Regions from separate parts of the Homo sapiens genome. Here all the other regions are reported to be linked to region 6. Evidence: microRNA targets listed by miRTarBase, many of them from high-throughput screens and not tested one by one. Region 6 holds a microRNA gene; each other region holds the end of a gene's coding sequence.

The links. Region 6 holds the annotated microRNA hsa-miR-4469 (GCUCCCUCUAGGGUCGCUCGGA, at 1,786-1,807, shown strand). A microRNA usually pairs through its seed, bases 2 to 8, with sites in the 3' UTR of a target mRNA and lowers its output. Matches are read on the target gene's strand: a 7mer-m8 pairs with bases 2 to 8, a 7mer-A1 pairs with bases 2 to 7 and ends in A, and an 8mer does both.
Region 1: miRTarBase lists SURF6 as a target of hsa-miR-4469. Seed matches in the 3' UTR shown: 8mer at 3,449-3,456, 7mer-m8 at 3,074-3,080, 7mer-m8 at 3,070-3,076 and 8mer at 684-691.
Region 2: miRTarBase lists MCU as a target of hsa-miR-4469. Seed matches in the 3' UTR shown: 7mer-m8 at 1,713-1,719.
Region 3: the mRNA of F11R is a reported target of hsa-miR-4469. Seed matches in the 3' UTR shown: 7mer-m8 at 3,712-3,718.
Region 4: the mRNA of EIF2B5 is a reported target of hsa-miR-4469. The part of its 3' UTR that is shown has no 7-base or 8-base seed match.
Region 5: miRTarBase lists BHLHE40 as a target of hsa-miR-4469. Seed matches in the 3' UTR shown: 7mer-m8 at 3,121-3,127, 7mer-m8 at 3,117-3,123 and 7mer-A1 at 2,492-2,498.

The regions. Positions count from the first base shown.
Region 1 is chr9:133,328,175-133,332,277 of GRCh38, forward strand. SURF6 (surfeit 6) reads right to left here. Exons shown (of 5, transcript NM_006753.6): 5 at 602-4,103. The coding sequence ends at 3,695. Among named protein-coding and RNA genes, the nearest start is that of SURF6, 6.0 kb to the right of the region's middle.
Region 2 is chr10:72,885,279-72,889,278 of GRCh38, reverse strand. It overlaps MCU (mitochondrial calcium uniporter), which reads right to left. Exons shown (of 8, transcript NM_138357.3): 8 at 1,585-3,534. The coding sequence ends at 3,457. Among named protein-coding and RNA genes, the nearest start is that of OIT3, 6.5 kb to the left of the region's middle. RefSeq lists an enhancer at 1,974-2,268.
Region 3 is chr1:160,995,361-160,999,459 of GRCh38, reverse strand. It overlaps F11R (F11 receptor), which reads left to right. Exons shown (of 10, transcript NM_016946.6): 8 at 52-64; 9 at 369-417; 10 at 554-4,099. The coding sequence ends at 589. Among named protein-coding and RNA genes, the nearest start is that of F11R, 24 kb to the left of the region's middle.
Region 4 is chr3:184,144,457-184,148,548 of GRCh38, forward strand. It overlaps EIF2B5 (eukaryotic translation initiation factor 2B subunit epsilon), which reads left to right. Exons shown (of 16, transcript NM_003907.3): 15 at 141-251; 16 at 428-855. The coding sequence ends at 487. Among named protein-coding and RNA genes, the nearest start is that of DVL3, 8.9 kb to the right of the region's middle. RefSeq lists a silencer at 886-935.
Region 5 is chr3:4,983,446-4,987,545 of GRCh38, reverse strand. BHLHE40 (basic helix-loop-helix family member e40) reads right to left here. Exons shown (of 5, transcript NM_003670.3): 5 at 2,223-4,100. The coding sequence ends at 3,854. Among named protein-coding and RNA genes, the nearest start is that of BHLHE40-AS1, 5.5 kb to the right of the region's middle. RefSeq lists enhancers at 63-960, 961-1,858, 2,847-2,906, 2,917-2,976, 3,407-3,586 and 2 more.
Region 6 is chr8:42,893,926-42,898,009 of GRCh38, reverse strand. MIR4469 (microRNA 4469) reads left to right here and starts at 1,735; the gene lies at 1,735-1,813. RNF170 (ring finger protein 170) reads left to right here and starts at 1,405. Exons shown (of 7, transcript NM_030954.4): 1 at 1,405-1,526. It overlaps HOOK3 (hook microtubule tethering protein 3), which reads right to left and starts at 1,032. Exons shown (of 22, transcript NM_032410.4): 1 at 822-1,032. The coding sequence starts at 878. RefSeq lists silencers at 414-473, 484-1,273, 1,454-1,813, 1,609-1,820 and an enhancer at 1,727-2,288.

The sequences.
Region 1 (4,103 bases), not on the chromosome of region 6:
CGCCATGCATGACATGCGTTGCTCAATGACTGCATCCACTCAGCCAGTATGCCAGTCCCCACTGAGCCTCACTCTCAACCTCCCTGGCTGGCATAGGTTCCTTGTGCAGACATCCAGTGGCAGTAAAATATTGCTGGGTTCTCAGCTTCCCCCACCTGCAGCCCTCACTGGCCCACCCAGTTGTCCTGTCTCTGCTCAGGACGAGACCCCCCCCCGCCTCTTCAGTCTCTGTAGCCAGGTGATGGCAGTGGCCTTTTCCAGACCCTCACTGGCCCCTTAGTTCACTATGATGACTTCACCTCTTGGGAACCCATGGGGATGTCTTTCCCTCCAATACATCTACATTTGCCTGACCCAGAATGTAGTTTCAAGATGGGTCCATGCCTGGCTCCAAATCCCCTTATCAGAGTAAGGAAATACCTTAATTCCTAGTTTGCTAAAAACTCGTTATAAATGGCTGTCGCGTCATTTACTGTGTTCCTGTTCTGCAACCATTGAGATGGTCACGTGGGTTTTGCTCCTTTAATCTATTGATATGAATTACACTCTTGATTCTCTGGCATTGAAACTGCTTTGCAATTCTGAATTAAATCCAGTGTGGCACTTTGCTAAACTTGGTTTATTATTGTCTAAAATCTTGACATTGGTATTTGTAGGGACCAGCCCCACAGGGTCCGTGGGTCTCTCCCTCCCTGTGTGCAGCAATGAGAGAGTGTAGAAATACACACACAAGACAAAGAGATAAAAGAAAAGGCAGCTGGGCCCGGGAGACCACTACTACCAATGCTCGGAGACCGGTAGTGGCCCCGAATGTCTGGCTGCATTGTTATTTATTGGATACAAAGCAAAAGGGGCAGGGTAAAGAGTGTGAGTCATCTCCAATGATAGGTAAGGTCACGTGGATCACGTGTCCACTGGACAGGGTGCCCTTCCCTGCCTGGCAGCCGAGGCAGAGAGAGAGAGGAGACAGAGAGAAAGACAGCTTATGCCATTACTTCTGCATATCAGAGACTTTTAGTACTTTCACTAATTTACTACTGCTATCTAGAAGGCAGAGCCAGGTGTACAGGATGGAACATGAAGGCGGACTAGGAGCGTGACCACTGAAGCACAGCATCACAGGGAGACGGTTAGGCCTCCAGATAACTGCGGGCAGGCCTGCCGGATGTCAGGCCCTCCACAAGAGGTGGAAGAGCAGAGTCTTCTCTAAACTCCTCCAGGGAAAGGGACACTCCCTTTCCCGGTCTGCTAAGTAGCGGGTGTTGTTCCTTGATACTTTTTGCTACTGCTAGACCATGGTCCACCTGGCAACGGGCGTCTTCCCAGACGCTGGCGTCACCGCTAGACCAAGGAGCCCTCTGGTGGCCCTGTCCGGGCATAACAGAAGGCTCGCACTCTTGTCTTCTGGTCACACCTATGTCCCCTCAGCTCCTATCTCTGTATGGCCTGGTTTTTCCTAGGCTATGATTATAGAGCGAGGATTATTATAATATTGGAATAAAAGGTAATTGCTACAAACTAATGATTAATGATATTCATATGTAATCATATCTAAGATCTATATCTGCTGTAACTATTCTTGTTTTATATTTTATTATACTGGAACAGCTCGTGTCCTCTGTCTCTTGCCTCGGCGCCTGGGTGGCTTGCCGCCCACAGGTATTTGGTAACTTCCCTTTCTCTTACCTAGTTTTGGTATCAAAGCTAAGTTCACGAATGAAGTGTTCTCTCAATTGATTCTGTTAGAATTTGTCTACGTCTGGAATTACCTGTTCTCTATATCGTGGAACTTCCCTGTAAAACCGTCTAGGGGAACATTCTTAACTACTGACTCAATTTCATCAGTGATTACAACTCAGGCTTTCTATTACTTTTAGTCAGTTTTGGAGATTTTTCTTCCATTTACTTTGAGTTGTTCCAACTTAAGCTGCATGCTTATTTTTCTTTAGCTTTAAAAATACAGACATACAGCGTATGTGTGTATAAATGGCACTATTTATCTGTAGATGCACATACATTTAGGGGCTATGTTTTTTTGTGCTGCTTTAGCTCTGTTCCACAAATCTTAAATTTTTTCTTTTTGAGACAGTCTTGCTCTGTCACCCAGGCTGGAGTGCAGCGGCTCGATCTTGGCTCACTGCAGCCTCTACCTCCTGGGTTCAAGTGATTCTCCCGCCTCAGCCTCCCAAGCAGCTGGGACTACAGGTTTGCACCACCACACCCAGCTAATTTTTTATTTTTAATAGAGATGGGGTTTTATCATGTTGTCCAGGCTAGCCTTGAACTCCTGATCTCAAGTGATCCACCCGCCTCCCAAAGAGCTGGGATTGACAGCATGAGCCACCATGCCAGGCCCTGTTCCACAAATTTTAATACGTAGCATTTTCATTATCCTTTAGTCCCAAATATTTCTAATAGCCATTCGGAATTCTTTAACTCATAGGTAATTTATAAGTGTGTTTTAAAAATTCCAAATATGAAATGCCACTGCACTCCAGCCTGAGTGACAGAGCAAGACTCTATCTAAAAAACAAAAAAAAATAGCTCAAATTTTTTTTAATGACATTGGGATACGGTCAGATAACGACACTGATTCCTTGAAATATCTTAAGACTTCTTTTCTGGACAAAGTAGGTGGTCAGTTTCCATCCATGTTCCATATATGCATGGAAAGAGTATGTATTCTTTTCAGATACTGTTGTGTCTGTCTCTCAGCTCAAGCTCATGCTCACCTCACATCCTATCTTTCACAGGGCTTTTTCATCAGTTGCCTCTGTCTGGTAACAGTCACACCAGCTCCTGTTCAGTTACAGTCTTTGTCTCATAACCGGAGAGTTTCATCAAAAGAATTTTATTTACAGCTTTATCATCCATATGCCACTAAAATTCACCTGTTTTCTTTCAACCTGCACTCATTTTGATTGCCTGGAACTCTGGATTTAATTCTTCCATCCCACTTTGTATCTTGCATTCACTTCACTCTCTCTCCAGCTTTTATTCTTTCTTTCTCTTTCCCTAGGTCCAATGCACTTGACCCAACTCACATGCGTGGACTCCGGGAAGGTACTGCTCCCTCCCTCCAAATTCTGAGCAGTAAAATGCCGCCCCGGGGCACTGGGGAACAGAAAGGAATGAGACCCCAACAGGCAGAAGCCAAGAGAGCGGGGAGGAGCCATGGCGTTCTGCCCCAGGATGCACCACGCCTGGACGTGCTCCCCCGACTCCCAGTGCCAGGTGCCCATATGCCACACCTCAGGGTTGTCCTCTGTTCGGGTGAGCTGCGGACTAACGTGGCCCGGCAGCAGAGGCCACCGTCTTCTGTCCCGTGGCTCCTGCGAACACAGGCAGTGGGGAACAGGCAGTGACTGCCCACCCCCACCGTTCCTCCTCCCTGACCCTGCAAACCTCGGGGAAGCTTTCAGGCCCGGGAAAGCAGACCAGGCCCCAGTCTCCCTCACCCTTTCCCTGGGTCTGAAGGTCCCGGATCCTGCGTTCAAGGATGACGCTGAAACTCTCTCTTTCTCACATGGGATCTGTGATCTGGGCCCTCACAACTCAGCAGAGCACCACTGTGTCCCCCTCACATGGAGAGGCCGAGGTCTGTGGAGATCCTGGGACAGAGCCAGCGTCAAGGACTCAGAGGGTGTCCTGGAGTCTCCTAGGACGGAAGACGGCGGCCCCAGGTGGGAAAGACTCAGACCAGGCCTGCGCGCTCCAGGTCCTGCGGCAGGATGCGGCCCTTCTTGCGGGCTCTGAGCAGGCGGCGCTCGGCGCGGGCCGCCTTCTTCCTGCGCAGGTTCTGCCGCCGCCGGTCCTGGCGCTGCTGCATCTTCTCCACCACGCCGGCCGTGCGCTTCTCCCACCGGCGCTGCCGCTGCGCCCTGCGCTTCTCCTTGCGCTTCAGGGCCTCCTGCAGCAGGCGTTCGTCGTCACGGATCTTCACGCCCTCCGCCTTGTAGAGGAGGTTGGTCCACTTCATCTTCGCCTCCAGCTCCTGCGCCTTCCCCTCATCCTGGCCGCGCAGCTCGTCCAGCCGGCTCTGCCGTGCCTGCAGGCGCTCCAGCAGCTGCCGGTAGTTCCTCCCGGTCAGCGGCGTGAGGTTC
Region 2 (4,000 bases), not on the chromosome of region 6:
AATAGCCATTCTGATGGGTGTGAAGTGGTATTTCATGGTAGTTTTACCTTTCCTTATTAGTGATGTTGAGCATCTTTTCATGTTTATTGGCCATTTATATATTTTCTTGGAGAACTGTCCAACTCCTTTGCCCATTTTTTAATAAGGTTTCCTTTGTTGTTCACTATACTTTAAGCTTGTCCTACCCATGGTTTGCAGGCCGTGTGCAGCTCAACACAAATTCGTAAACTTTCTTAAAACATTGAGGGTTTTTTGTGTTTTGTTTTAGCTCATCAGCTATCATTAGTGTTGGTGTATTTTATGTGTGGCCCAAGACAATTCTTCTTCTTCCAGTATGGTGCAGGGAAGCCAAAAGATTGGATACTCCTGCTTTAAACTTCAAATTGTAAGCTCCTTAAAGGCAGGAATCATGTTTTCATTTTCCTTAAAAAACCTAACCAAAACAAACACAACCCTGCAAAGCTTAACAGAATGTGTGAAGTATGTAGATACCATTTGTTGAATGCAAAAAACGACTTAATATTTTCAACCTTGTAAGAGTTGAAGAAAGAAGGAGGAAACACAAGAAGTGGCTCAATAGTCAAAGACAGGTTTATTTTGGGGAGTATTCTGGCTGATTTCAATCAGGAGCATTCTGTCTTACAGACTGAGGGTACTTAAGGGTTTAGCAAGGGAGAGCTTATCGCATGCTCGGAGTGTTTCTGGGTGGAGGAGAATTTTATTTCAAGGGTGGAATGTCTGTTCGGAGGGGAGGTTATCTCGGGGCTGGGATGTCTCTGGTCAGAGGGGGCTTTATCTCAGGGTTGGAAAGTTTCTGGTCTAAGGTGTCATTTATGGTTTATGGTCATGCTGACATTAGCCATTAGGCTGATGTTTTCTGGGCTGGATTTAGGCGGTTTTTAATTGGGAGAACTTAAAATGGCAGTGCTTGTCCAAGATGGCGATGCTTCTGCTCTGTCAAACCTTACCTTCTTACACTTTACATGGGGGTAAGGGTTGTCTGCGTTAGGCTGCTGTAAGCTGCCAGAAGGCAGGACCACAGCTACAGAGGCTCTTTGAACAGCACCTCATATTGCACTCCAGCAACCAGATATTTAATACAAGTTTTTAAATATGCCTGTGGTGATCTTGGCAGCATGTGATATTTCCTGTTTGGCTACCACTGTAAATTTGATACAAACTCTGAAAATAATGAATACTTAATTTTGGTGCGTCTTTGAACAATTTTCTTGAGTCCAGGAGCCCATAGCACTGGGCAATCCAGGTGATCTGATACCACAGAGATTTTTCCTGTCAATCAGGAGATGAGGATTCAGGCTCACTGAGACTGCTGCTGCTGACTTTATTAACGGTTGTACAGGTCACTCAACCTCTTGGTGGCTCTGGAAAATTAGGAAAATACTGATTATCTTAGGTTCAGGAAGAACTAGTGAAATGCCTATTTTTGAAATATAGGCTTAAGGAAGAGCTTAATTTGATAATGATATTTTTATAAAAATGAATTTTAGAAGTAAAAAACTTCCCACCTAGAATCACAGGAAATGTAGTTTTTCTGGTTTTGTTTTAAAGAATGAGATGCTATCGTTCAAAAATTGAATAAGTATTTATTGTTCCAGAAGGTACATTGCTTTTTATACATATTTCATAAATGATACAGGATTTTACACATGTTCAATAGTTTGCTATTTGTTTAAAGAACTTTTCTCCATGTCCTCCCTCCCTTGCTTCCCACACACCCCAAAAAGATTTGCTCGTTGCACTGTGCTGTTTCTTCTTAAAAACCCTATGCACAAACAGGATAAATGGGTTAAAAATAATTCACACAACTTAACAAAAATAAATGAGGGAAGGAGCTGACGACTGGGGGTGGTGGAGGGAGAAGGAAGTGGGCGGAGGGTCAGGAAGTGGAGACATGCATCCTTTCATTCCGTCATGCCAATGAAAGGGGTGTTGGCAGGAGTAGCAGCAGCAGCAGCAATCCTGGCTGGCCTTCAACCTTTGCAAGGCACCTGGAGTCTGGGTTTGTCATTTAAAGTTTTTCTTTTCATACACAATGATCCCAAAGGAGGAAGAAAAAGAGAAAGAAACTCCTTGCCACAATGAGGAAGGATGAATCACGTGAAAGAAAAGGCCAATCAGTGGTGTGGCAGCCCCCATCATCCTTTCCATCCTGCCCCTACAGCAGTTAAAAACAGGATATTAGACACAGATTCCTTTGACTCTTCAAGCGCAGATGTCATCTGGAAATATGGTAGAAAATGTTTTGACAAAGTATAAGATTAATTCTCTTTCTCTCAATTTAAGATAAGAAAAAATAGGGTGAAGAGAGTGGGCTTGAAGGAAGCCCTAGAAATGTATTCCTATATAAAGATAAATTGCACCCTTTGAGATCCACACACTTGATTTACAACTGAAGTTGTGGAGGTGGGAGGGCTCACAAACAGTGTGGAAGTGTGTGTCCTTCGAGATGAACAAAGCCTCCAGACAAGGCAGTCCCATCTGGCTGGCCTGGAATGCTGTCACACAAAGCAGATTAGCAATAAAATTATTCTGGTTGAAATGGCTACAGAGCCATGATTCTTAGCCAATTTGTAAACCTTACATCTTCCTGATTTGGTAGTACAGCTGAACACCCCCTTTCCCTCTGATTTGTGTTCTGGAGGGAGAGGGGATTATCAATAGATAAGTATATAAAGGAGGGCAATTATTCCTCCTGTGAAAGACTAATTAATAAAACAAAACAAAACCAACAACCTCATGCAGTGTTGCCAGTGATTTTTAGACACTGATCCAGAGCACTGGGATATATAGACATTTAAGAAGGTATTAAGAGATAATCTAAAGTGTCAATTATTAAACAGTTATAAGTTGGTTCCAATTATCAAATGGAAAAAATGAGTGTAACCAAGAGGTACAGGTAGGTGGTCAGTAAAGGGATGCTGGAAGGAAAGATTCCTGGTAACTCTGCAGAGACTGGGTCCAATTTAAAATAAATGCTAATGATATTTTAGCATATCATGAGAATTTGCTTTTCTAGTATATTTATTTACTCCTATGTCAAAAATAGGGACAGTTAAATTAAAAACAAATAGAGTCGAGTGGGGTGCTGGTGTGTTACTCTTTTGCTGACTCTGCAAAGAAGATGCAAGAAACGAACACCCCCAGCATTGTTTTCTCTTTATGAATCTCTCAACTATATAACTGCATCATTTTCATCCAGAAACTGAGATACTTGGTTAAGACAATATTCACTAAGCCCTTTGAGCTTATATTCCACAATGCCTGATCCTCAGGTTTTAACATTCCCTTCTTCCCTCAGATCCTTTCTGTTTTTGTTTTATAATTAAAGGTAAAAACGCTCTACCCCCCACATGGCTCCCAGCTTCCACCTGCAATGCTTTAATTAAAAAGGCAAACAGGTGTTCCTTCTGCCAGGATTCAGAGGCTTTTTGCAGATCAATCTTTTTCACCAATTTGTCGGAGAGGCAGATGTACTTGTAATGGGTCTCTCAGTCTCTTAAGGTCCATTTCTGCCTAAAATAGAAACAAAAGGTGAGAAAACTGGCTAGTGAAGCTTTCAATGATATTACTGTCTACCAAGAAAAGGAAACTGTTCTCCATTACTATAAGTCAGAGAGATCATCTCAATAACTCTCAAAATAAGAGTGCCTTGAAAGACAAAGCATTTTAACTCACGGCATAGGACAACAAAGGGTGAATCCAAAATGGAAGCCATCCTTGGCAGTTTCAGCCCTCAACAAAGCCTCCAGAAAAATCAGTGCTATCAACAGGGTAGGACTCAGAGGCTAAGAATGTAAGGAGCATCTGAGACATACATCTTGATGGTGTTTCTCCAGTGAGAAGCCCTTTCACAAGGGCTAAGAGCCAGAACTTTATGCTACTCAAGATTTTAGTTATTTATCCAGTACCTGTTTAAGTTTTTACTTAGCCAGTGAATTTTGGAACAGCGTGTGTAGTCAACTGTAGTACTTTCAAAACT
Region 3 (4,099 bases), not on the chromosome of region 6:
ATGCTGTCTTCTGTCCTGCTGACACTCATGATCCCATTTCTTCTCTTTCAGGAACAAAGAAAGGGTGAGTGAGGTGCTGTCCTGGGGTTCTCCAAGTTTGAGAGCATGGATGCATGTGGTTTGAAGCTGAAGTGGGCCTAGGGGAATGGGTTGAAGGCAGAAGCAACCAGTTTGGAGGGAAGGCATTTGGATATCCAGCCCTTTCTCTGTGGCCTTGGCCCTGGGTCTGTCCTGTTACCCCACCCATACCTGTCTGCTGCGCACTCTGTGCTTCTGTAGCATTCTCGCTTCTGGCCTTTAAAGTTGGCAAGGGGAGGTTAATAAGCACCTAGGTGGCTGAGTGTCTCTGTCTTCTGGCTTGTTCACAGGACTTCGAGTAAGAAGGTGATTTACAGCCAGCCTAGTGCCCGAAGTGAAGTGAGTATGCCTCCCCTGGGCAGGGGTGGGCCACCTGGGGCTGGAGTGAGGAGATTTCTAGCCCATGTTTATGTGTTTTGGGGATTATCAGCTAAAGAAGACTATTGAGAGTTGACTGGATGTTTTATTTCTGCAGGGAGAATTCAAACAGACCTCGTCATTCCTGGTGTGAGCCTGGTCGGCTCACCGCCTATCATCTGCATTTGCCTTACTCAGGTGCTACCGGACTCTGGCCCCTGATGTCTGTAGTTTCACAGGATGCCTTATTTGTCTTCTACACCCCACAGGGCCCCCTACTTCTTCGGATGTGTTTTTAATAATGTCAGCTATGTGCCCCATCCTCCTTCATGCCCTCCCTCCCTTTCCTACCACTGCTGAGTGGCCTGGAACTTGTTTAAAGTGTTTATTCCCCATTTCTTTGAGGGATCAGGAAGGAATCCTGGGTATGCCATTGACTTCCCTTCTAAGTAGACAGCAAAAATGGCGGGGGTCGCAGGAATCTGCACTCAACTGCCCACCTGGCTGGCAGGGATCTTTGAATAGGTATCTTGAGCTTGGTTCTGGGCTCTTTCCTTGTGTACTGACGACCAGGGCCAGCTGTTCTAGAGCGGGAATTAGAGGCTAGAGCGGCTGAAATGGTTGTTTGGTGATGACACTGGGGTCCTTCCATCTCTGGGGCCCACTCTCTTCTGTCTTCCCATGGGAAGTGCCACTGGGATCCCTCTGCCCTGTCCTCCTGAATACAAGCTGACTGACATTGACTGTGTCTGTGGAAAATGGGAGCTCTTGTTGTGGAGAGCATAGTAAATTTTCAGAGAACTTGAAGCCAAAAGGATTTAAAACCGCTGCTCTAAAGAAAAGAAAACTGGAGGCTGGGCGCAGTGGCTCACGCCTATAATCCCAGAGGCTGAGGCAGGCGGATCACCTGAGGTCAGGAGTTCAAGATCAGCCTGACCAACATGGAGAAACCCTACTAAAAATACAAAGTTAGCCAGGCATAGTGGTGCATGCCTGTAATCCCAGCTGCTCAGGAGCCTGGCAACAAGAGCAAAACTCCAGCTCAAAAAAAAAAAGAAAGAAAAGAAAGCTGGAGCTGGTGGCTTAGGCCATCACCCTTCCCTTGGCTGGAACTACTGGACAGACCCTTTTGAGATGTGCCTGTGGTGCTGTGGAGATGTGTGTAGTGGTCTTAGCTCTTTGTTGAGCTTGTGTGTGTGTTGTGTAGTCTTAGCTGTATGCTGAAATTGGGCGTGTGTTGGAGGGCTTCTTAGCTCTTTGGTGAGATTGTATTTCTATGTGTTTGTATCAGCTGAATGTTGCTGGAAATAAAACCTTGGTTTGTCAAGGCTCTTTTTTGTGGGAAGTAAGTAGGGGAAAAGGTCTTTGAGGGTTCCTAGGCTCCTTTGTACAACAGGAAAATGCCTCAAAGCCTTGCTTCCCAGCAACCTGGGGCTGGTTCCCAGTGCCTGGTCCTGCCCCTTCCTGGTTCTTATCTCAAGGCAGAGCTTCTGAATTTCAGGCCTTCATTCCAGAGCCCTCTTGTGGCCAGGCCTTCCTTTGCTGGAGGAAGGTACACAGGGTGAAGCTGATGCTGTACTTGGGGGATCTCCTTGGCCTGTTCCACCAAGTGAGAGAAGGTACTTACTCTTGTACCTCCTGTTCAGCCAGGTGCATTAACAGACCTCCCTACAGCTGTAGGAACTACTGTCCCAGAGCTGAGGCAAGGGGATTTCTCAGGTCATTTGGAGAACAAGTGCTTTAGTAGTAGTTTAAAGTAGTAACTGCTACTGTATTTAGTGGGGTGGAATTCAGAAGAAATTTGAAGACCAGATCATGGGTGGTCTGCATGTGAATGAACAGGAATGAGCCGGACAGCCTGGCTGTCATTGCTTTCTTCCTCCCCATTTGGACCCTTCTCTGCCCTTACATTTTTGTTTCTCCATCTACCACCATCCACCAGTCTATTTATTAACTTAGCAAGAGGACAAGTAAAGGGCCCTCTTGGCTTGATTTTGCTTCTTTCTTTCTGTGGAGGATATACTAAGTGCGACTTTGCCCTATCCTATTTGGAAATCCCTAACAGAATTGAGTTTTCTATTAAGGATCCAAAAAGAAAAACAAAATGCTAATGAAGCCATCAGTCAAGGGTCACATGCCAATAAACAATAAATTTTCCAGAAGAAATGAAATCCAACTAGACAAATAAAGTAGAGCTTATGAAATGGTTCAGTAAAGATGAGTTTGTTGTTTTTTGTTTTGTTTTGTTTTGTTTTTTTAAAGACGGAGTCTCGCTCTGTCACCCAGGCTGGAGTGCAGTGGTATGATCTTGGCTCACTGTAACCTCCGCCTCCCGGGTTCAAGCCATTCTCCTGCCTCAGTCTCCTGAGTAGCTGGGATTACGGGTGCGTGCCACCATGCCTGGCTAATTTTTGTGTTTTTAGTAGAGACAGGGTTTCACCATGTTGGTCGGGCTGGTCTCAAACTCCTGACCTCTTGATCCGCCTGCCTTGGCCTCCCAAAGTGATGGGATTACAGATGTGAGCCACCGTGCCTAGCCAAGGATGAGATTTTTAAAGTATGTTTCAGTTCTGTGTCATGGTTGGAAGACAGAGTAGGAAGGATATGGAAAAGGTCATGGGGAAGCAGAGGTGATTCATGGCTCTGTGAATTTGAGGTGAATGGTTCCTTATTGTCTAGGCCACTTGTGAAGAATATGAGTCAGTTATTGCCAGCCTTGGAATTTACTTCTCTAGCTTACAATGGACCTTTTGAACTGGAAAACACCTTGTCTGCATTCACTTTAAAATGTCAAAACTAATTTTTATAATAAATGTTTATTTTCACATTGAGTTTGTTTAAATCCTGAAGTTCTTACCTTAAGAGAATTGGGACTCCTAGAGTGATTGGACATTCAAAATATTCCTGATAGTCTTGTTAATTAAGAGATTAGGATATCTTTCCATTACCTTGATAATTACGTTTTAATTTAGCTTTTTTCATTGGCCTGTGTTTAAATGCAAATAACCCCACAATGGACATTTCCTATGTTAAAGTGACATTTAGGGGATAAAAAATGAGAGCAGTTCCATGGATTTTGGTGTTTCCCCTGAGACATGAACTCAGCATAATCTGGGATAAAATGATTGAGTGTTAAGGATGTGTTTGTTGTTCCTGTCGTTTTTTTATTTTCTTCAAAGTATACAACATGGTTTGATATGCACATACATTTGTGTAATGATTGCCATGGTCAATTAACACATCACCATTTTTGTGTGTGTGTGTGTGTGTGTGTGTGAGGGAGTCTTGCTCCGTTGCCAGGCTGGAGTGCAATGGTACAACCTTGGCTCACTGCAACCTCCACCTCCTGGGTTCAAGCAATTCTCTTGCCTCAGCCTCCTAAGTAGCTGGGACTATAGGCGTGTGCCACCATGCCCAGCTAATTTTTGTATTTTTAGTAGAGACGGGGTTTCACCATGTTGGCCAGGATGATCTCGATCCCTTGACCTCATGATCCGCCCACCTCGGCCTCCCAAAGTGCTGGGATTACAGGCGTGAGTCACTGCACCCGGCCACATCACCTCCCATGTTCTATCTTACGTATTCAGAACTTGTTCATCTTGTAACTGAAAGCGTGTACCCTTTGACCAACACTGTTTTTCCTGTCTTAACAGGATCTACAGAT
Region 4 (4,092 bases), not on the chromosome of region 6:
GCCCCAGGAGCAGAGCGAACAGCTCACTCTTGTCCGTTTTGGAGGAGGCTACTCAGTGCATAGAGGGATCTGAGGGCCTGGTAGAGTATCCTGCTGGACTTTCCAAGGCCCCTGAGGTCCCCTTTATTGGCCTTTTGCAGGTACTGATGGCTTTCTACCAGCTGGAGATCCTGGCTGAGGAAACAATTCTGAGCTGGTTCAGCCAAAGAGATACAACTGACAAGGGCCAGCAGTTGCGCAAGAATCAACAGGTGCGTCAGGCTGTCCTCCTCTCGCCAAGATGGTTATCTCATTCCCAGGTCCTGGCCCCTAGACTCTAGGGTGGTTGGTTTCTGGGGCTCTGGTTGTTAGAGCTGTTTATCTGCCGAGGGGAGCAGGAGAGTTATGTGCACCTCCCCCAGCCGATCTCTCCTCTGCTTCTTTACAGCTGCAGAGGTTCATCCAGTGGCTAAAAGAGGCAGAAGAGGAGTCATCTGAAGATGACTGAAGTCACACTGCCTGCTCCTTTGGGTGTGATTGAGTGCCCTCCTGGCTCCTGGGCTGGGACAAGTGAGGAACTAGCTGCAGAGGGATGAGTGACCACCATCCAGGCTGAGACTGAAAGGAGCAGAGGCTGGAACTACAGTATTCTTTCCCCTGCTAGCAACCATGTGCCTCCCATCCTGACTGTGGAGTTGGGATGTGGAAGTGGGGCTGGAACAAAGCTTCTGCCTAGGGAGGAGCTAAGCAGGCCCGGCAGTTGGAGGAAGGCCAGAGGAACAGCTTTGTGCTCCGGCTTTCCCTCAGGGAACAGCAGAGAGCAGTTGGCTCTTTCTGCTGCTTGTATATGTTAATATTAAAAGAGAGAGTGGTGTATTTGGTTTGTCTCCATCCCTGACTAATCAGCCAGTGAAGTATGTGACCAGAATCACATGATAGCCTTTCCTTAACACCTGGGGGAGAGGGAGGACGGGTGTGCCAGCCACTAGGTGGTACTGTGGTACCTTGCTAATTAACCTTTCCCATGGCTCATGGGTAGTGGAGGGCGGAGGTTCTTTTCCAGCCTCTGTGGACCAACTTGTGATCCTGGGGTGGTGTGCCTAAGCCCGTTTCCATAGAGTCCCATTTTGAACACTTTTCTGCCAGAGGATTATGTTGCCAACCATATGTAAAGCCCATTAGACATGCCAGTTCCTTTCACATGCCTTTTCCAGTTGATCTGGTACTCGTTCTGTCAGGAAGCTGGGCCACGCTTCATCAGAAATAAGGAAATCAGCTCAAGGTCACATGACTCTTGAGGGGTAAAGCTAAGGACTTGACCCTCAGAATCCAGAACTCTGTCCTTCAGCGTATTGTGTTTCAGTGAAGGGAAAATTGGCCCCACAGACAAATATAACCCAGAGCCAGTAATGGAGGTCCCAAGAACACAGGAAGGCCATGTGAAGGGTGCTTTCCCTTGAGAGTGTTTACTATGTGACAGGCAAGCAGTTTTCACATATTGTTTCATTTAATCCTCACATGAGCCCCATGAAGTCTTATCCCCATTTTCAGATAAGGTGCCTGAAGCTCACAGAGCTTCCCTAGCTAGTAACTGACAGAGCCAGGTGTGATATTGGACTCTTGACCTGGAGCTTGTTACTTTGCTGTATTGCTTTAACCTTAACCAAAAGAGACATGCCTTTCTGTCTTTTCTTTTTGAGTTCCTTGTCTTCATATAGAGTGAGTCAACAATTCTGGCCGCGTGCAGTGGCTCACGCCTGTAATCCCAGCACCTTGGGAGGCTGAGGCAGGCGGATCACCTGAGGCGAAGAGTTCGAGACCAACATAGCGAAACCCCATCTCTACAAAAATACAAAAATTAGCTGGGCATTGTGGCAGGCGCCTGAAATCCCAGCTACTCAGGAGGCTGAAGCAGGGAGAATTGCTTGAACCTGGGAGGCGGAGGTTGCAGTGAGCCGAGATTGTGCCACTGCACTCCAGCCTTGGTGATGGAGCGAGACCCTGCCTCAAAACAATATAATAATAATAATTTCCTTTAGTGGTACTTAAACGGTGGCTAATGTGACTGTTGTAACAAGTGATGCTCTACCCCCCCATCCCTACCGTCCCAGATGTTACAGAACAAATGGTTGCCTTTATTCATTTTAGTTGGATAGAAAGACATAAACTGGCCTAGGCGCGGTGGCTTACGCCTGTAATCCCAGCACTTTGGGAGGCTGAGGTGGGCAGATCAGCTGAGGTCAGGAGTCTGAGACAAGCCTGGCCAACATGGTGAAACCCTGTCTCTACTAAAAATACAAAAATTAGCCAGGCGTGGTGGTGGGTGCCTGTAATCTCAGCCGCTCGGGAGGCTGAGGCAGGAGAATCGCTTGAACCCAAGAGACGGAGGTTGCAGTGAGCTGAGATCACACTATTGCATTCCAGCCTGGGCGACAAGTGAAACTCTGTCTCAAAAAAAAGGATATAAACTGAGGATGGGCTGACTGAAGTCAGCTTGTGGGTATGAAGGCATCACTGGAAAAGGAAAAGACAGGCTGGCCAGGGTTTGGCTTAATTTTCTAGTAAATCTCAGTTTCTGTCTTGTTAGGTATAGGATCTAGTGTCTAGTATGAAGATTCTGGCATTATGGCATGGACCTAGTACAGTGAGACATCCCTGTATCTGTACTGAATGTATAGCAGAAATCAGAAGTAGTCTACAGAGCTTTTTCAGAAAGAGAGATTACTTCCAGTTAGGGTGATTAGGGAAGGCTTTACAGAAATTTGATGCTGGAGTGGCCTAAAAAATAGAAGAGGCTGGAAGCATGCATTAAAAGCAAAACAAAAACTTTCCAGTTAAATACGGAAAATTAAACACATGAGCCTTTATGCCCCCTCCAAAAATTCTATTGAAATACCAGTAAAGGAATTATTTTAAAAAGGCACGTGCTGGCTGGGCTCAGTGGCTCACACCTGTAATCCCAGCACTTTGGGAGGCCGAGGCAGGTGAATCACCTGAGGTCAGGAGTTCAAGACCACCCTGGCCAACATAGTGGACCCCCGTCTCTATTAAAAATACAAAAAAGCCAGGCGTGGTAGCTTATGCCTGTAATCCCAGCACTTTGGGAGGTCAAGGTGGGTGGATCCCCTGAGGTCAGGAGTTCGAGACCAGCCTGGCCAACATGATGAAACCCCCATCTCTACTAAAAATAGAAAAATTAGCTGGGCCTGGTGGCAGGTGCCTGTAATCCCAGCTACTCAGGAGGCTGAGGAAGGAGAATCGCTTGAATCTGGGAGGTGGAGGTTGCAGTGAGCCGAGATCGCGCCATTGCACTCCAGCCTGGGGGACAAGAGCGAGACTTCATCTCAAAAAAAAAACCAAAAAACACAAAAGTTTAGCCGGGCATGGTGGGGGGCACCTGTAATCCCAGCTACTCAGGAGGCTGAGGAAGGAGAATTGCTTGAACCCAGGAGGCGGAGGTTGCAGTGAGCCGAGATCATGCCATTGCACTCCAACCTGGGTGACAAGAGCGAAACTCTCAAAAAATATAATAATAAAGCCACATGACCCAGTGATAAGGAAAATAGGAGGTGACAATGAATGAGAGATGCCAACATTTTGGAAGATGAAAAACAGAACAGTCAACAGTCACTTAACAGAGTAGAATGAGTTGGGTTCTACCTGCTGAGGGAGTTAATGGCAAGAAGTAAGCCAATGTGCCCTTCTGAACCCATAAAAGGTTCAGCACCTCAGAGGAGGGTATGGACTGACGCTGAGAACTAGGGGTGGGGTGGAAGGAGATTACACGATGATCTGTATAAGAAAAAGCCCCACCAAGTCCCAACCTCATCTGATCCAGCCAAGTGATTACCCCTACTCCCTTGCATAAAATGGGAGATTCCGTCTCTGGAGAAATGGTAGGGAGGAAGTTAGCAAAGATAGACTTAAGGTTTCCTAAGCCCAAAGGTCACAAGTTTCCAGACCAACTGTCCATGAGTGCCCAGCATAATGAATGAAAAAGCCCATGAAATTTCAGAATGTCCAGGGGAACTTAAACTATCAGAGCCTCTGCATTCAGCAGCAGGCATAGTGGGGATAGAGGTGAGGTATTAGATTGAAAATGAAGAATTAAGT
Region 5 (4,100 bases), not on the chromosome of region 6:
TAGTCATTAACAACTCGGCTCTGTGAAAGCCTTCTCCTTGGATCCAATTAAGGGACCCACAAACCAACAGATCCACCATCCTACAAAAGGTTTAGCCCCCTCAGAAGCTGTGTGACCTCGGGCTAGTTACCTCTCCTCTCTGAGCCTGCTTTTATTTATCTACAAAATGTGAATTGTAATAGTACCCATAATGATACTTCTAGGTTGTTTGACGTGCATTAGTGAGCGATGACCCGTGGGAAGCTTCTAGCTTCTAGTCAATTAAGCCCTGGTCCCCGTGCTCTGCCTAAATCCAGCTCCCTACCCCACCCAGTCCTCCCTCCCCACCGCCGACGGGGAGCGCTCGAATTCCCTCCTGCTGGGCGCGAGGGAGGGGGGGCGTCCCGTGCCCGCTGCCAGGCCCTAGTTCTGGGGGCCGAGCGATCCCAAGGCCTTGCCGAGCTTCCCCGGGGATCAGGTTTCTGCTGACGCGGTGCCAGGCACGTCTGCTTCCAGGAACCGGCAGCCGCTTTTAGCCGCGGGCCGCACATGAAAGGGCTGCAGTCGGAAACGTGACGTTGTGTCAACAGGCGGGGCAGGTCAGCGCTGGGTGAGACCATCCCGGCAGGCCCGGCGGATCACGCCCTGTCTGAAGGCGGCCAGATGCCCAGCCTCCGCTCCCCTGCCTCCTGCCACCTCTCCTTGGCCCCGGAGCCAGCGCTTCGCCCCCTGACACTCACACACCCCGCTTTTTAAACAGAAGTCCTCTTTGTCCGCAGTGGGCATTAGGCTGGGGTGCGCGCCCCTCCCCCGCACCTCCCTCTGAGCGCATTTGGATGCCGCTAGAACTGGGCTAGAAGAGAGGTTAAGGGCGAGCTGGAAGCAAAAAATGAAGTGGAGGGACAGCTGCAACTTGAGGCGCTGTTTGACAGGGGCAGGTTCCCATAGCGGGATTCTGGGTTGACTGTGTGTGGAACCCTCAAATCTTTTTTTTTAGTTCAGGTTGCTCCAACCACTTCCTCCTTTCCCCAAAGCTACTCCTCCTGCAGTGGCCTGGGAAAAAGAGAGGGTTATGCAAAAAGAGTTTGGTCTTGATTTTTCAACCCCCGGCTATATCACCAGGGTAAGTTTGATTTGTTGGGTTTTTTCCAAAAAAGTCTAGCTAGAGAGGTCTGGCAACTCATGGAGCAATTGAGGTGTTTCACAGGCATGAGACCTGGAAGCCCAGGCGTTGGGCTGGGAGAAAGAGTGGCTTACAGAATTTGCCATCTGCCTGCTCTGGGACTTGTGAGAAGGGCTCGGAATTCTTATTTTATCTAGTCAAAAGCAGGCGTGGAGAGGGAGGTGATAGACCACCAGCTATTGATGCCAGGCTTCCACCTCCTGGTCCCGGCTCCTTGCACAACAGCCTGTGGCCTGGGGACAGTTACGTGCATTCCATATGCATCCAGCACAAGCAGACAATGCTCACTTTCACCTGCTGGCCCATCAGGAGACAGGGAAGGTGACATGTGAAGCAAACAGTCTTCATGGTCAGGTGGAGCCTCTGCCTGGCTAAGAAATCCCTAGGGGCAGCTTCCCTGCTGTACTCCAGACAACCAGGGAGTCCTGGCAGACTGGGATGCTTTGGGAGCCGGAGCGTGTTGAGTCAGGCGCTGGCCATCAGGAAACATCAGGACACCTCTGACAGGGAGTATCCCACAGGAATGTTGCAAATCAAGGCAAAGGAGAGAGGCAAAAATACACGACAGGGTCATTTCCCACCTTTCCCATGGAATTTTTTTTTTTTTTTTTTAAATAAGAGCACTTGTCGAAGGAACACCCAATATGCATTCACGCACAAACATACCGGAGAGGAAGTCCAGGAAGGATGTAGAAAATAATTATGGAATGTTGCCTCCAGCAGGAATAAGACAGGATATGGCAAATCCATTAGACCTTGCTAGATTTGAAAAAGCTAGACTGCTTTGGCAAAGAGGTGCTATCCTAGCATCAATTAGTATTGCATAATAATCCAGTAAATCTTTTCTCAATGTGCCTCTCCCTCCAGCAGGCTCCCCAGACACTGCTGCCCACGGTGTCATACCTTGGTTTTCTGTCAAGTTCCAAGGACCACGATGAAAGCAGGCAGGGGAAAATATGCTTTTTACTTAACTCTGGAAAGAGGTAGAGGATGATCATGAACCCCTGGCAAGGGTTAAACAAAAATTGAACCAATATTTACCTGCCAGGTTGACTAAGCTTATTCTGATTGAATACAAAGCACATGAAAAGCTGAATGAAATTACACTGAGATTAACTGGTTTGCTTCAGCCAAGAAAGAAGGACATGGGAGTCAGCCATATCACACCAAGTGAGCTATTTTAAAAAACTCAGGAGACCATCTTTCTCTTCCACAGGAAAAGAATTATTTTATTAAGTATTTTAAAACAACTACTTAACATTTACTCATAGATAAAAATATTTACAATTTTACACCTTCAGGAAGGCTCCAAAATATAAACACTGTACCTCTCCCTAGAGAAAAAAAAAATTATTCTTCTCTTCAAAAACAGGAATACATTCATTTTTTCTCACTGTGTGAATCAAGTAATTATACAAATAAACATCTGAAACATTTTCCTTTTTAATATATTTATATAATATATATTTATAACAGCTTTACAAATAAAGGCAACGACTTAATACCAAAATAAAAACAGGAAAAGAAAAAGTTAAAACACGATCAGCAATCAGGCATAGTGCATTTTGAAAAGCTGCTGCGGAGCTGGCTGGACACATCGGGAAAACAAGTACTCTGGACCAAAAATAAAACTTCTTTGAAGGAGACGGAATCCTTTTTAGCAATAAGGACACTCCATATGCCGTTGGGCAAGAGGAATTAGCCTACAGAAAGGATCTGGCGGTGCCAAGGCTTGGTTAGGCCTTTGAGAAGCTAAGCTTGGTTAAAAGGAGTTTTAGGATGGAATTGAAAACTGAGTCTAGTTCTGTTTGAAGGGGGCAGCTTTTTACTCAGCTTTGTGCACTTTGGGGTGCTCGCTCGGGGTGTCCGCATTTCTCAGACCTTGGTTTGGTTCCCTGCACAGTAAGTACTAATGGTTAGGCCTAGAAACAGGTGCCAGAAGCCCAGGGAACTCCTCCCTCCCTCCGGGGCAGCTCAGCTTGTACAAGGGGCCCATTTTCAGTTCCTTAGTAAGCTAATCACTACGAAAGCCTGAGTAGGGAACTACATTCTCTTTATTCTTCCGAGGCAGGGGTGGGGAGCAGACCTGCGGAAACCTCCCCAAACCACTACCGTGCTATGCCAGTGCCTGCTACCTCCCCATGTTAGCAGAAAGCTCGGTCTGACTGCTCTCTCTCCCCGACGTCTGGTGAGTCACGTCGACAATAAAGGCAAAAGGGTGGGGTCCTAACAGCTGGTTGGGAGCTGAGCCCTGGAAAGCCCTCTTTTGAAAGTACCTTCTGATCAAAGCCACAGACCCAGCTCCCAAACTGAAGAGTGACTCACAGACCAAGACTTTGAAGCTTTTGAAAATCCAGCTGATGTGTATCGAAGGGGGCTATTCTCTGGGTGGGGAAAAGCCCAGACGTCTGCTACAATCCCCCCCAAGTCTCCTGATGTCAAGCAATCCTTCGTGACTTCCCTATGCCAAAAGGAGCTTTAAAGTCCTATACCAACACGCAGGCACACATGTGCACGCACACGCACATACACACACACACACACACACACACACCCTGAATCTGCTCTCCATGCCTCAGATTATCTCAGTATACACAATGCAACAATCTTGCAGCATTCACAAAAACTTTTTTGTTGCTTTTTAGGAAGTAGCGAGGAAGGAAAGCAAAGCAGCAGGATCCCCTAGAGAGTTTAGTCTTTGGTTTCTAAGTTTAAAGGGGGGATTGGCTTCAGAGCTTGGAGCAAGACAGAAGAGTCGACGGACGGATGAGCTGGCAAGGGAGAAGGGAGTCTCTGGGGCATGAGCAAGGGAGCCGAGATCTTGTCTGGGTTCATGAAGCTAGAGAGGGCTGCGGCAGAGGCGTTGAGGCCTGGGTATAGCACTGGCACTGAGGTGGGATACCAGCACTTCTCCAGCATGGGCAGGTAGGCAGTCGCT
Region 6 (4,084 bases):
ATTCTCAGCAATGAGTGAAACGGAGGCTCCCGAAGGCAGCGCGGGGTCCGCCCGGGCTCTGCGCATCCCTCCCCCTCCCCGGCCGCGCCGCGGCGAGAACGACTGGAACCCGGGCGTCGGTTCCCCTGCCGCGTCCTGAAGACCCGGCTTCAGGAAGGCGCGGCAGCTGACGTGAGAGGTGAACATGTATTTACTTCAAAGTATGAGGAATCTAAAACCGTTTAAGAATTCAAAATCAGAATCCCACGACTCTGTCCCCCAAGGCCTTCGAGTTCCATTGTTGACGCCCAGACACCTCCAGACTCCTTTAAACGTCTGCCCGACGCCTCTGACAGGCGTCCGCCCCTCGCGCACTCCCACCGCCAGCGGTGCCTTGCATCCGAAACGGGGTCCCCGGGCGCCTCCCGCATTCTCCCCACGCTCCCTCACAGGTCCTTTCAGTTCCCGGGCCGGAGCCGGGCCCGTCCTCCGCGAACGCGGCAACAAAGGCGAGGAGCGGCGGCGGGTCCTGGACGCGGGGCAGTCAGGCTCGGCCACCCCCAGAGCGCAGCGCAGCCCCAGCTGCGAGCAGCCGCACGGATCCCAGAGTCGCCCGCCGCGTTCCCAGCCCAGCCCCGGCCGGGGTCCGCCCGGAACAGCGACGCCTCAGGCCCGGCAAGTCTCTCTCGGACCCTGGGCCGAGCCTCCTCGCCCCGCCCGCCCCAGGCCCCGGATGTGACGGCACCGTCGCCCGCAGCGCTCGCCCCACGGGCCGCGCGTGGAGGGTCCCGGTAGGTGGCGGGGGGAGGGGGTCTTCCCGCCGGCCCGCGGCCCCCACGTACCCAAGTGAGGAGGCTCTCGCACAGCTCCGCCCGCTCCAGCGACTCTACGCTGAACATCTTCCCCGCCGCGGCCAGGCAGCGCCTACCGCCTGGCCAGACACCGCCGCCGCTCTGTCGGGGGATCCGGGGGCCCGCGCAGCTGACTCGGCCTCAGGCCCGCCTGCTCCTCGGATCCGGCCGCCGACTCTCGCCCAGCGCTGGCAGCGGCTCCGCACCGTCACCCCCAGCGCCCCTCCTTCTCCTTTCACTCGGGACCGCGCGCCAGCCGCGCGCGACTTCGGACACGCCCGCCGCCCCGCGTCCCCGCCCCCGGCCGCCCACACCGCTCCTCCCCAGCGCCGCCGCCCTGGCTGGAGCCGAGGCCGAGGAGCCACTGCGCACGCTCGCGCCCCGGCCGACCCGCGCCGCCGCGCCGCCGCCGCCGCCGCCGCCGCCGCCGCTGCCGCCGGGCGCGCCCCCGCCACCAGTTCGCTGCGTGTCGAGGCGAGCACGCGCTCCGCCCTGGAGGCTGCGGCGACGGGTCCTCCTCCGCCGTCCGGTCGCGCCCTCGCGGAAGCTCGGCAGTGCGCGTGCGCCCGCACCCGCACTCCAAATTAGAAAGGGGACGTCTAGTGGGTTGCCCGGGAGGGGTGGCGGGAGCGGTCCTGGAAATAATCTGTCCTCTGTCGCCGGGAACTGGCGAGGTAGTTCCTTCGCGGTGGAGAGGTACGTCCGGCGCGCGGCGGCCACGCCCACCCTATCGGGGCCCGCGGAGCCGCGGACGGCGGGGTCTGGCCTTCTTGGGGTAGCTCTGGCCGCCGAGGCTCTGCGGGGCGGCGGGAGTCGCCGCCTCCTTCCCCCCGGGCCCCTCCCTCGTCTGGAAGCCCCAGAATCGCCCCGCGGCTGTCCGGAGTCGCCGGCGACGGTGGAGGGGCCGACGCGGAGAGCGGCTCTAGGTGGGTTTGGCGGCGGCGAGGACACCGCCGCTCCCTCTAGGGTCGCTCGGAGCGTGACCCTGAGAACTCTCCTTAATGCAGGAGGGGTGTGCGCCCGCTCGCCAATCCGTAAGGACACCGGCCGACCCCGGGCCTGCGTTTCTCAGCGTTCGGAGTTGCCTTCGCTTAATGGCGAGGCGGATCGTTCTGGAGCTTCCACCTCTTTAGAGGCACGAATCTGTCTGCTGGGCTGCCGATAAATTTTTAACAGATATAGCATACGCAGAAAAGTGCATACGACATACACGTTTAAAGAAGAATTAATAAAACACCCAGATAAAAACGAAAAGGGCATTACCGGCACCCCAGGAGTTTCTCACCCATGCCCTGTGCTCCTTTCGGAGCCTGATTGTCTCCTAGCCTGACTAGTGTGATCATTTCCTTACAGCTTTACCATCTATGTGTGCATGCGATGTCGTTTTCCTTTGCCTGTTTTTGAACTTTTGCGGGTGGATCACAGTGTGTTGTTTTGTGGTTTTCAATCAGTATTAAATTGGTGTACTGTGTATGTATAGGTAATTTTAATTGTTGCCTAGTATTCCAGTGTGAATAGAACAGTGAATCCATTCTACTCTGGTTGGGCATTTTGTTCAGACTGAGGCCACTCAGAACATGGCTATAAACATTCTAGTGTACCTGGAACGTAGTGCAAATATGTTGGAATTTCCAGGACATGCACTTTGGAGTCCTTAGAGAATTGTCGATGCGTAGAGTATGCATAACTACCACCCAATGCCAAATTTTTATTTGGAGTGCAACAAAGCTAACTTCCCAAGACACACTTTGCTTTGTAGTTCCTGGAACCCCTTTCCCCCACTTTTTTTCCATTAAGAGTAGGTTTTCTCATTGAGCACTGAAAACTGCCAAGACAGCATTGAGTGGGGTTTTTTGTTGTTGTTGATGGTGGTTTTTGAGAAAGGGTCTCGTTCTGGAGTGCAGTGGCGCAATCTTGGTTCACTGCAACCTCTGCCTCCTGGGCTCAAGTGATCCTCCTACCTCAGCCTCCCAAGTAGCTGGAACCACAGGTGCAGGCCACGATGCTCAGCTAATTTTCTTATTTTTTGTAGAGAGGGGGTCTCGCTATGTTGCCCAGGCTGGTCTCAAATTCCTGGGCTCAAGTGATCCGCCCGCCTTAGCCTCCCAAAAGTGCTGGGATCAAAAGTGTGAGCCACCGAGCCTGGGTCAGCAGTGAGTTTTTAAGGTTGCCTTACAGAGTACCACTTGATAGTTGACCCCTGATCATTTAGCATTTTGTAAGTGTAAAAAAAAAAAAACTTACCTGAAGTATTCTCAATGGTCTTTTTTTCAAACATTCTTCCCTACACCAAGGGCAGAGAAACCTTTAGAAATTACACATACGTGGCCAGGCGCGGTGTCTCGCGCCTGTAATCCCAGCACTTTGGGAGGCCGAGGCGAGCGGATCACGATGTCAAGAGATCCTGGCCAACATGGTGAAACCCCGTCTCTACTAAAAATACAAAAATTAGCCGGGCGTGGTGGCGGGCTCCTGTAGTCCCAGCTACTCGGGAGGCTGAGGCAGGAGAATCGCTTGAACGCGGGAGGCTGAGGTTGCAGTGAGCCGAGATCGCGCCACTGCACTCCATCCTGACGACAGAACGAGAATCTGTCTCAAAAGAAAAAAAAAATTACACATGTGTGTCTCGCCTGTGTTTGGTTCCTGTGTTGGTGCCTCTGGATATTTGTCAAACTAGAGTTCCTACATTCCTTATCAGGTTATTTCTGTCGAATCTCTAGCACTTTTAAGTGACGTATAATCTTGTAGGCAAGTGAATGAAGTCAGTGAGTATATGTCACATTGACTTACTCCTGACTCACATGCAGCTTGTCTTTAGATGGGCAGATAAGATGCTGGCCCTACTGGAGCGACTGTGGTTGTGCCGTCCTGAGCACCCTTCCTCCAGTGGCCCCGGTTTTCAAGGCTTTGACACAATGGACCTAAAGTCTCCTTTTTCAAGCTTGGCTGCATATCCACAGTGCTTTTGTGCATGATGTTACGTTGTTCTGGAGGTTTCATTTTGTAATTCCAGTTACCTTTGATGAAAGAAATTAGTAAAAACTTTTTGGATGTGAGTAATTGCAGAAGCCATGTGGCTGCTGAGTTTCTACGTAAGCCTTGGGGTAAAAAGACACTGAGATTCTCTCCTTTGTTCCAGGAAGTCCCGGAATTTCCTATTTTTCTATTTTCTCTGTGTGTTTTATTTTTTTTCCTTCCCTGAAAGCTTTGGAAATGCCTGAGGAGAGGTGAGTTGAACTTGTCTTAGCTGTCTG